Linked DNA regions of Homo sapiens: all the other regions are linked to region 1. Evidence: fine-mapped expression QTL. A gene starts in region 1. Each other region holds a variant in brackets. All regions are shown on one strand. Distances are from middle to middle.

Evidence for each region.
Region 2: its variant is fine-mapped to the expression of CYP2U1 in whole blood (INTERVAL, PIP 0.92).
Region 3: its variant is fine-mapped to the expression of CYP2U1 in tibial nerve (GTEx, PIP 0.91).

The regions. Positions count from the first base shown.
Region 1 is chr4:107,930,188-107,932,948 of GRCh38, forward strand. It overlaps CYP2U1 (cytochrome P450 family 2 subfamily U member 1), which reads left to right and starts at 1,362. Exons shown (of 5, transcript NM_183075.3): 1 at 1,362-1,946. The coding sequence starts at 1,457. CYP2U1-AS1 (CYP2U1 and SGMS2 antisense RNA 1) reads right to left here and starts at 1,932. Exons shown (of 7, transcript NR_125929.1): 1 at 1,784-1,932. All of the region lies in intron 1 of LOC107986298 (a long non-coding RNA gene), which reads right to left. LOC124900751 (a long non-coding RNA gene) reads right to left here and starts at 1,398. Exons shown (of 2, transcript XR_007058221.1): 1 at 786-1,398. RefSeq lists enhancers at 732-1,239, 1,900-1,969, 2,030-2,099 and a silencer at 1,100-1,689.
Region 2 is chr4:108,066,541-108,069,301 of GRCh38, forward strand. The region is part of intron 9 of LEF1 (lymphoid enhancer binding factor 1); the gene reads right to left. Among named protein-coding and RNA genes, the nearest start is that of HADH, 78 kb to the left of the region's middle. The variant C/G (reference allele first, on the strand shown) is at 1,512.
Region 3 is chr4:108,001,905-108,004,665 of GRCh38, forward strand. All of the region lies in intron 1 of HADH (hydroxyacyl-CoA dehydrogenase), which reads left to right. Among named protein-coding and RNA genes, the nearest start is that of HADH, 13 kb to the left of the region's middle. The variant C/T (reference allele first, on the strand shown) is at 1,497.

The sequences.
Region 1 (2,761 bases):
TGAGAAAAGTAATCTCACAAGTAGTGGTTAATTATAGAAGATGAGAGGTGTGGAGGTTTTTTTTTTTTGTTTGGGGTGCATAAGCTTAAAATAACATGAAAAGCATGTCAAAAAGAATATGAGAACAGAGTGGACTTGAAATTTAACATATCCTACTGGCATCACTTGTTTATAGAAAAATAAAATGGATCATGTATTTATTTGAGGACTCACTATGCTTTCTTTGATCACATTTTTATAGGTACAGCGTGGTGTTCAAACTTTTAATGTATGGAGAAAAATGAAACGGCTAGAAAAATGGCCCAGTACAGACAATTCTATGCTCAATCCAACTTGAACAGAAACTACAGGATTTGGCCTAAACAAGACTGAAAGGGAAGCCCTTATCAGGAAAGCCATTATCTGAGAAGATAAAATAAAGTAATACTTTGTTTTTAAAGTATTATACAATTCATATCTAATATTTCAACCTCAGCCTTTCAAGTGTTGTCTAACACCAATAATAATATTGCCACCCCTCCCTCAACCGGTTATCTTCTTTTCATATTTCTAGCTACTTAAATCCACCAAGCAAATTCTGGTTTCGCTATTTCTGGATTTAAGTACATTTTCTAATGCACCCAGGCCACACGCAGGAATGGACACAGCTTTCGCTCTCCGCATAAGTTTTCTAGCCCAGGGCAAGCTCTCAGAACGTGACTCCTCGTGCCTCGCTGCCCGCCCCTCGCTCCCCCCACTCCCGCCATCATCCCTTCCGCAGAGTTGGCTGCCAAGCCGACACCCACAGATTCTGCATTCCACGGCTTCCCAGCATCCTGCTGTCTCTGCGTGGAGGAAAGGGTGCTGCGAATCCCAGTTTAGATAAGGAACCCCGTCTTTTCACTACTACACCGAAGCATGCAGGAATAGGGCGTTGACCCCATTCTCCCAGCTCAGGGCACAGGTGCTAAGGCCGACCCATCTCACGGGCCTGTTCACCAGTTTCCCACACTCAGTACAGATCCTAACACGGTTTATGCACTTCATAACCATGCGTTTGTGTTTGTCAACTGACAAACGAGTGATAATGACAAACGAATGACACAAGGGAAACCAACAGCCAATCAGAGCGCAAGGTTGTGTTGCCAGCATCCCAGTTTCAGGGACAGTCACCGCCAAGCCCGACCCTGCAAAGGGTCGTAACCGGACTTCGGGGCAAACTTCAGGTCCCCCGCCTGCTAGCCCGCCAACCCCCTCCGCCAGGCAGCCGGCGCGCCTCCAGGTTCCGCCCAGGCGTCGCTGAGTGGCGGCGGCGGGGAGAATGCGCGCGGCGCAGCCAATCCGGGGGCGTTCCTACACCCCCTGCCCGCCCCCGACCTTCCAGAGCAGAGCAGGACACTGGCGCCGCGGGTCAGGCAGCTGCGTGCGCGTCTCCTCCAGGCAGCAAGGGGAACCCGAGGCCGCCGGCGCCCGGACCATGTCGTCTCCGGGGCCGTCGCAGCCGCCGGCCGAGGACCCGCCCTGGCCCGCGCGCCTCCTGCGTGCGCCTCTGGGGCTGCTGCGGCTGGACCCCAGCGGGGGCGCGCTGCTGCTATGCGGCCTCGTAGCGCTGCTGGGCTGGAGCTGGCTGCGGAGGCGCCGGGCGCGGGGCATCCCGCCCGGGCCCACGCCCTGGCCTCTGGTGGGCAACTTCGGTCACGTGCTGCTGCCTCCCTTCCTCCGGCGGCGGAGCTGGCTGAGCAGCAGGACCAGGGCCGCAGGGATTGATCCCTCGGTCATAGGCCCGCAGGTGCTCCTGGCTCACCTAGCCCGCGTGTACGGCAGCATCTTCAGCTTCTTTATCGGCCACTACCTGGTGGTGGTCCTCAGCGACTTCCACAGCGTGCGCGAGGCGCTGGTGCAGCAGGCCGAGGTCTTCAGCGACCGCCCGCGGGTGCCGCTCATCTCCATCGTGACCAAGGAGAAGGGTGAGCGGGAGGTCGTGGGCTGTGGGTACGCGGATGCCGCGGATGAGTCTCCAGGTGCGTGGGGGCTGCAGTTCCTGTGCCCCTTCCGGCCGCCCGCGCCCCCAGGCTGCCTCACACCTGCATCCTGAACTAACAGGTGATGGTGGTGGCGGCGCTTCTCCTTTCTGATGCCTTTAAGATCCCATCAAGTAGTGACGGACGCGTGACTTGCTCATACTCCAAGATCATAAGTAGAAAAGTCATCCGGAGATTGAGGGAGAGTAATAGGGATGGCGGAAGGACAAGGTGGCAAGCCAGGTTCCATCTTTCCAAAAGTAGCCTTCCCTTCCACCAGCTGTGACCTCGGAGAGAAACTTTGGCCCCCATGTTAGAAAGAGGGAAGGATATTCTTTTTACCTTGTGGGTTTCGAATGTAAGAATTTAAGAAGATAATTTCCAATAAGATAAAAAGTCCAGAAAACACAGAAGAAGCCTATTACCAAATCTCCGGCTTTGGTTCATAGCCTCTGATTCCTGCGTATGGGAGTCTAAATTGGACATTTTTGGGGGTTGGAAAACGTGTTATCTGCTGCAATAAAATGTCCAATCTAACCTGTCTCTACCGTCCCCCTTTGTCTTACTGGCTGGCTTAGGTCTCTGACTTCTTTTCTGAGTCACTCCTACGCATCAGTCAGGTGTTAAATGCCTTTTCCTTGGGGAAGCCTTTTCTCACAGCCTCTGCAAGTAGGGTAGCCTCCCTTGTTAGAACCAGGTCCCTTGCCCAAGCACTTTTCCTTCACTACACTTTTCAAAACTGACGCTACATAACTTTATGA
Region 2 (2,761 bases), 140 kb after region 1:
CACATGTCTAGAACATAGCCAGCACACAGTGACCAACTGAGCCTGCACCGTTACGCTTCTACCGCTAAATCAAATAACCTGTTACCTTCTAGGATATCAACCAGTTCTTCAAGAGAATCTACATTTATGATAGGCAAAGAGAACTAAGTAGTTTGGATGTATTAATGTCAAGTTATACAAAAACCAAAATTCATGTATGGTAAAAACAAAAAATTTTTTTTGTTAAAATTATACGGACTGTATAATATTGGAAAGCATTAAAAACTAAATTGAAAAGTTCTAACATTATAAATATTTGGCTAATCTCACCCAAGAAAATTTGTGCACTATTAATTAGCCTGTTATTAGCCAAAGTTAAAAAAACAAGTTCAAATTATAAATCTATGTCATGTAATAGGGTATTTTAATACTGAATAATTGAGATATATATTTCACACGATCTCACTGAGGATCAGGATACCATTCTGGCACTAAATGCCTTAATTTTACCTTTATTCTATCCCTGTACAGTACTGTTATTTAAAGAACAGTATCTTTAGATAAAGTACTATCATTGATCAGCTTCTGTTTGCCTCAGTAATTGAATGACTTATTTTGATTATGATGAAAACACTATGAACGAAGCTGGGCTTTCCCTTCATTCAAGGAATATGCAAAACAATTTCCTTTAAAAGTTGTGCAGAGGGAAATCTTTAAAGATAAATCACATTACAGTAGCTTTCTTTAAAACTACTTTCTTCCCACCCATCAACATGGAGAAGAGAGAGCAGATAGAGAAAGAGATAGAATATGTAGGTGTTTGTTTCATGTCTTTTTAAAAGTTAAAACTCATTACTTAAGAATTAGAAAAACAAATTTAAAGGCATTCAAGAAGCAATGCTGAATAAAATTCACAGCACAATGAAGTTTACAAAGGTCATATGAGGAAGATTAGCTCTCCCCCTTTAGACAAACTACACCCAAAAGACACCTAAGGCAGGATTAGAAGATCCTTTTTTTTTTTTTTTGGAGACAGTTTCGCACTTGTCACCTAGACTGGAGTGCAGTGGTGCGATCTGGGCTCATTGCAACCTCTTCCTCTCGGGTTCAAGCAATTCTTCTGCCTCAGCCTCCCGAGTAGCTGGGATTACAGGCGCACACCACCATGCCCAGCTAATTTTTGTACTTTTAGTAGATACAGGATTTCACCATGTTGGTCAGCCTGGTCTCGAATGCCTGACCTCAAGTTATCTGCCTGCCTCAGCCTTCCAAAGTGCTAGGATCACAGGCGTGAGCCACCATGGCTGGCCAGAAGACACTTTTGAAACCCTCTGGGTGAACACTGATCTTCCTACTTACAGGGCATGGCAGGAGCTCTATATAGAGATGGTAATTGCTGCTCAGAAAACAGAAGCCTGGCTCAGGGGTGAAAATTCTTCAACTACAGCAGTCTTAAGAAGGCACCGGGCCGGGCGTGGTGGCTCACGCTTATAATCCTAGCACTTTGAGAGGCTGAGGCAGGCGGATCACCT[C/G]AGGTCAGGAGTTCGAGACCAGCCTGACCAACATGGAGAAACCCCGTCTCTACTAAAAATACAAAATTAGCTGGGTGTGGTGGTGCATGCCTGTAATCCCAGTTACTCGGAAGGCTGAGGCTGGAGAATCGCTTAAACCTGGGAGACAGAGGTTGTGGTGAGCCGAGATCATGCCATTGCATTCCAGCCTGGGCAACAAGAGCGAATCTCTGTCTCAAAACAAAACAAAACAAAACAAAACAAAACAAAAAGAAGGTACTGGAAGACTGAGCTAATCCACTCAGGAGGAGGAAAACCACGTAGATTTTGAAGTCAGAGTGACCTGGGTGAAAACTTCAGCTTAGCCACCTACTACAAGGCCTTGCATAAATTACCTAAACTCTTCAGCCTCTCAATTTCCTCACCTGAAAAATGGAGTAATAATATTCATGTAATAGTATTCATTCCACCACTGGGTTGCTGTCAAGAATTTAAGACAGTTCCTAACCATCAGCATATGGTAGTTATTAAGGCAACCAAAATAACTCAGAAGAGCTGACTATGCTGTTTCCCATAAGTAACAGACAGACTCTTACTTCCTGTGTCAAACTTATATCCAATGTCTGAGCTCCAAACCTTGACCAGTAAAGTGACTTTTTCTGTGGAGCATATTATAGGAAATAAATTGTGCAACCCATTTCCAGAAATAAGTTTCCATGTGTGCATGACCTCAGATATGCATCCTTGTCATCATCTCTTGTGAGAACTTGAGCCCCACAGCAGCACCTAAAGCAATGGCTACATATTAAATTGTATATTAATTAACGGCTTCACTCTTGCTCTTTTAAAAAGAAATAATTTCACTTTTATTAAGACTGACCTGGCTGGCATTTCTAATGCTTGTCTCACGTAGACCCTGAGAATTACTATAGACTGAATGTTGTGTTCTCCCAAATACATATGCTGAAATTCTAACCCCCAATGTGATGGTATAATGAGGGAGAGTCTTTGGGAGGTGATCATAGCCTAAGCAAGGAGCTCTCATGAAGGGGATTAATGTCCTTATAAAAGAGACCCCAGAGCACTCTCTTCCCCCTTCTTCTACCTTGCAAAGATACAGCCAGAAGACTGGGACCAGGCCCTCACCAGACACCAAACCTGCCTGCACCTTAATCCTGGACTTCACAGGCTCCAGAAGTGTGAGAAATAAACCTGTTGTTTATAACTCACCATGTCCATGGTATTTTATTATAGCAGGCTGCATGAACTCA
Region 3 (2,761 bases), 72 kb after region 1:
CCAACTGTATCTAATTTCATGCAGCAGTGGTGGTGGAAGAAGCTACTCTGATAGGAATGTTTGTGTTCCCTCCAAAATTTATGTCGAAGCTGAATCCCCAGTGCAGCAGTATTAAGAGATAAGGCCTTTAGGAGGTGATTAGGTCATGAGGGTTCTGTATTCATGAACAGCTTAGTGCCATTTAAAGGGGCTTGAGAGACCAACTTTGCCTCTTCTCCCTTCTGCCATATGAGGACACAGTGCTCGTCCCCTCCAGAGCAGGGGTCCCCAACTTCTGGTCCGTGGCCCATTAGGAACCGGGCCACATAGAAGGATGTGAGCAGCTAGCAAGACTTCATTTGTATTTACAGCTGCTCCCCATCACTTGCATTGCTACCTGAGCTCTGCCTCCTGTTGGATCAAGAGTTGCATTAGATTCTCATAGGAGCATGAATCCTATTGTGAACTGTGCATGTGAGGGATCTAGGTTTCGTGTCCTTGTGAGAATCTAATGCCTGATGATCTGTCACTGTCTCCCATTATCCCCACATGGCACCATCTAGATGCAGCAGAACAAGCTCAGAGCTCCCACTAATTCTGTATTGTGGTGAGATGTATAATTATTTCATTATATATTACAATGTAATAATAATAGAAATAAAGTGCACAATCAATGTAATGCACTTGAATCATCCCTAAACCATCCCCTCTTCCCTGCAAGACGGTAGAAAAATTGTCTTCCGTGAAATTGTCTCCCATGTCTTCCTGGTGCCAAAAAAGGTTGGGGACCTTTGCTCCAGAGCATGCAGCAGCAAGGCACCATCTTGGAAGCAGAGAACAGCCCTCACCAGACACTGAACATGCTGATGATCTTGATCTCTGTTGTTTATACATTACCCAGTCTTTGGTATTTTGTTATAGCAGCACTAACAGACTGAAATAAGCCATATTACTAGAGTTTAGGAATTTAATGGCTCAGGAGAAAGTAGAAGCACCAAGTGTAGTGAATAAAATAGCAGCTAACAAGCTTTGTGCACCTTCACATGCCTGGCACTGGTCTAAGCATGTTAAACACATTAACTTCTTTAATCCTCACAACAGTTTTATGAGGTGGGTACCTTTGTTACTAACCTTTATGACAGATCAGGAAACCAAGACATAGAGGCTTCGTAGCTCACCCAAAGTCACACAGTGAGTGAGTGGCTAAATCAGTGTCTTAGTCTTTTTTTTTTTTTTTTTTTGCTGCTATTAACAGAATACCTGAGACTGGGTAATTTATAAAGAACAGAAATTTATTTTCTCATAGTTCTGGAGGCTGGGAAGTCCAAGATCAAGGTACCAGCTTTGGTGTCTGGTGCAGACCTACTCGTTGTGTCTTGCTGGGGGAAGAAGGCTGTCTGCACATGGCAGAAGGTGGAAGAAAGCTAGACGAACTTTCTCCGTCAAGTCCTTTTATAAAAACCTTTAATCCCATTCATGAGGGAGGAGCCCTCATGGCCTAATCTCCTCTTAAAGGC[C/T]GCACCTCTCAATACTATCATATTGGCAGTGCCTGACTTTTGAAGAGGACACATTCAAATCATAGCCAGGTTTTAAACCCAGGAACTCCAACTATAGGCTTGTTTCTCCACATATCACCATGCCACCAAGTAATTTAAAGACTTTGGTGGTAAAGCAAAGGCCAGCCTCAGGTGATTAAGGAGGATCCTTTTCTTCCTCCCTTTTTATATGGAGCAGGATCCCAGCCCGTTTGTAAAAAAATAGAAGGACACAGAAGGGAAAACTTGAAAATGAAAACTGAAAAACAAGTCATGAAATCAGAAGATGTGAGATCAAAAGCAAAATAAAATAGTTTACCTTAGAAGGCTGTGCCTGGATCCAACAATAGGCCTCAGACCCTTGCAGAAAGAAGAAGGGGGCAGCCCAGAATTAAAAAAAAAAAAAAACAAAAAAAAAACCCGCAAGCTATTGTGATGTGCCAGGCACCACTGCAGGTTTTTGACTTGTATTAACCCATTTAACCCTCCCAACAACCCTGTTGCCCCTGTTTTATAGATGAGGAGACAGCCTGCTGAGGTTAAGGAATGTTTTCCATCCCCAACTTGGCACACAGGCTCTGGAGTCTGGCCCTTGCCTGTCTCAGTACTGTTTCAGGCTGTTGCCCTCAGACCCCGCCATGCCTTCCAGGGTCAAGAAAGGCATGTGAGCAGGCAGCTTGAGCTCCCTGTCACGTGTAGACAGTGAGAATAATGTGCCTTCCCCAAAGGCAGTTATGAAGATCAGAGGAGATAATTTATGAAAAGTGCAAGCTCTCTTGAGAGTAGGGGATTTTGTTTGTTCACCTTACAAGGCAGGTGTTGAGTCAATAGGCTGCAGTCAGTGAAGGAATGAATGCAGTGGCATGCGCAGCGTGGTGGTCTAAGTGGTAGTTTTGGTCCATCCCTAGGGGAGCACAAGTCTTGGGCAGAGGATCAAAAGCACACACCTCTGAGAAGCCAAGTGTTTTTGTCTGTAACCTTTGATCATTCAAAAGGAAGCATTTTCTAACCTCTGCATTTTTTTACCCAAACTGTACAAAGGCTTCCTTGCTGTCCAAGTTGTGGTATACTCCAGTGCAGCTGCCTGGCTTCCAAGAGAAACTTAGCACTTCTTGTTCTGTTTGTAGCCTCAAATCAACATGTAACCAAAAGCTGTGAATGAATAATCCAAACTTGAAGAACCCCAGATTTTATTCAGGAGGAGTAACTGGAAGCCATAACCATGAACTTCCATATCTGTCATAGGA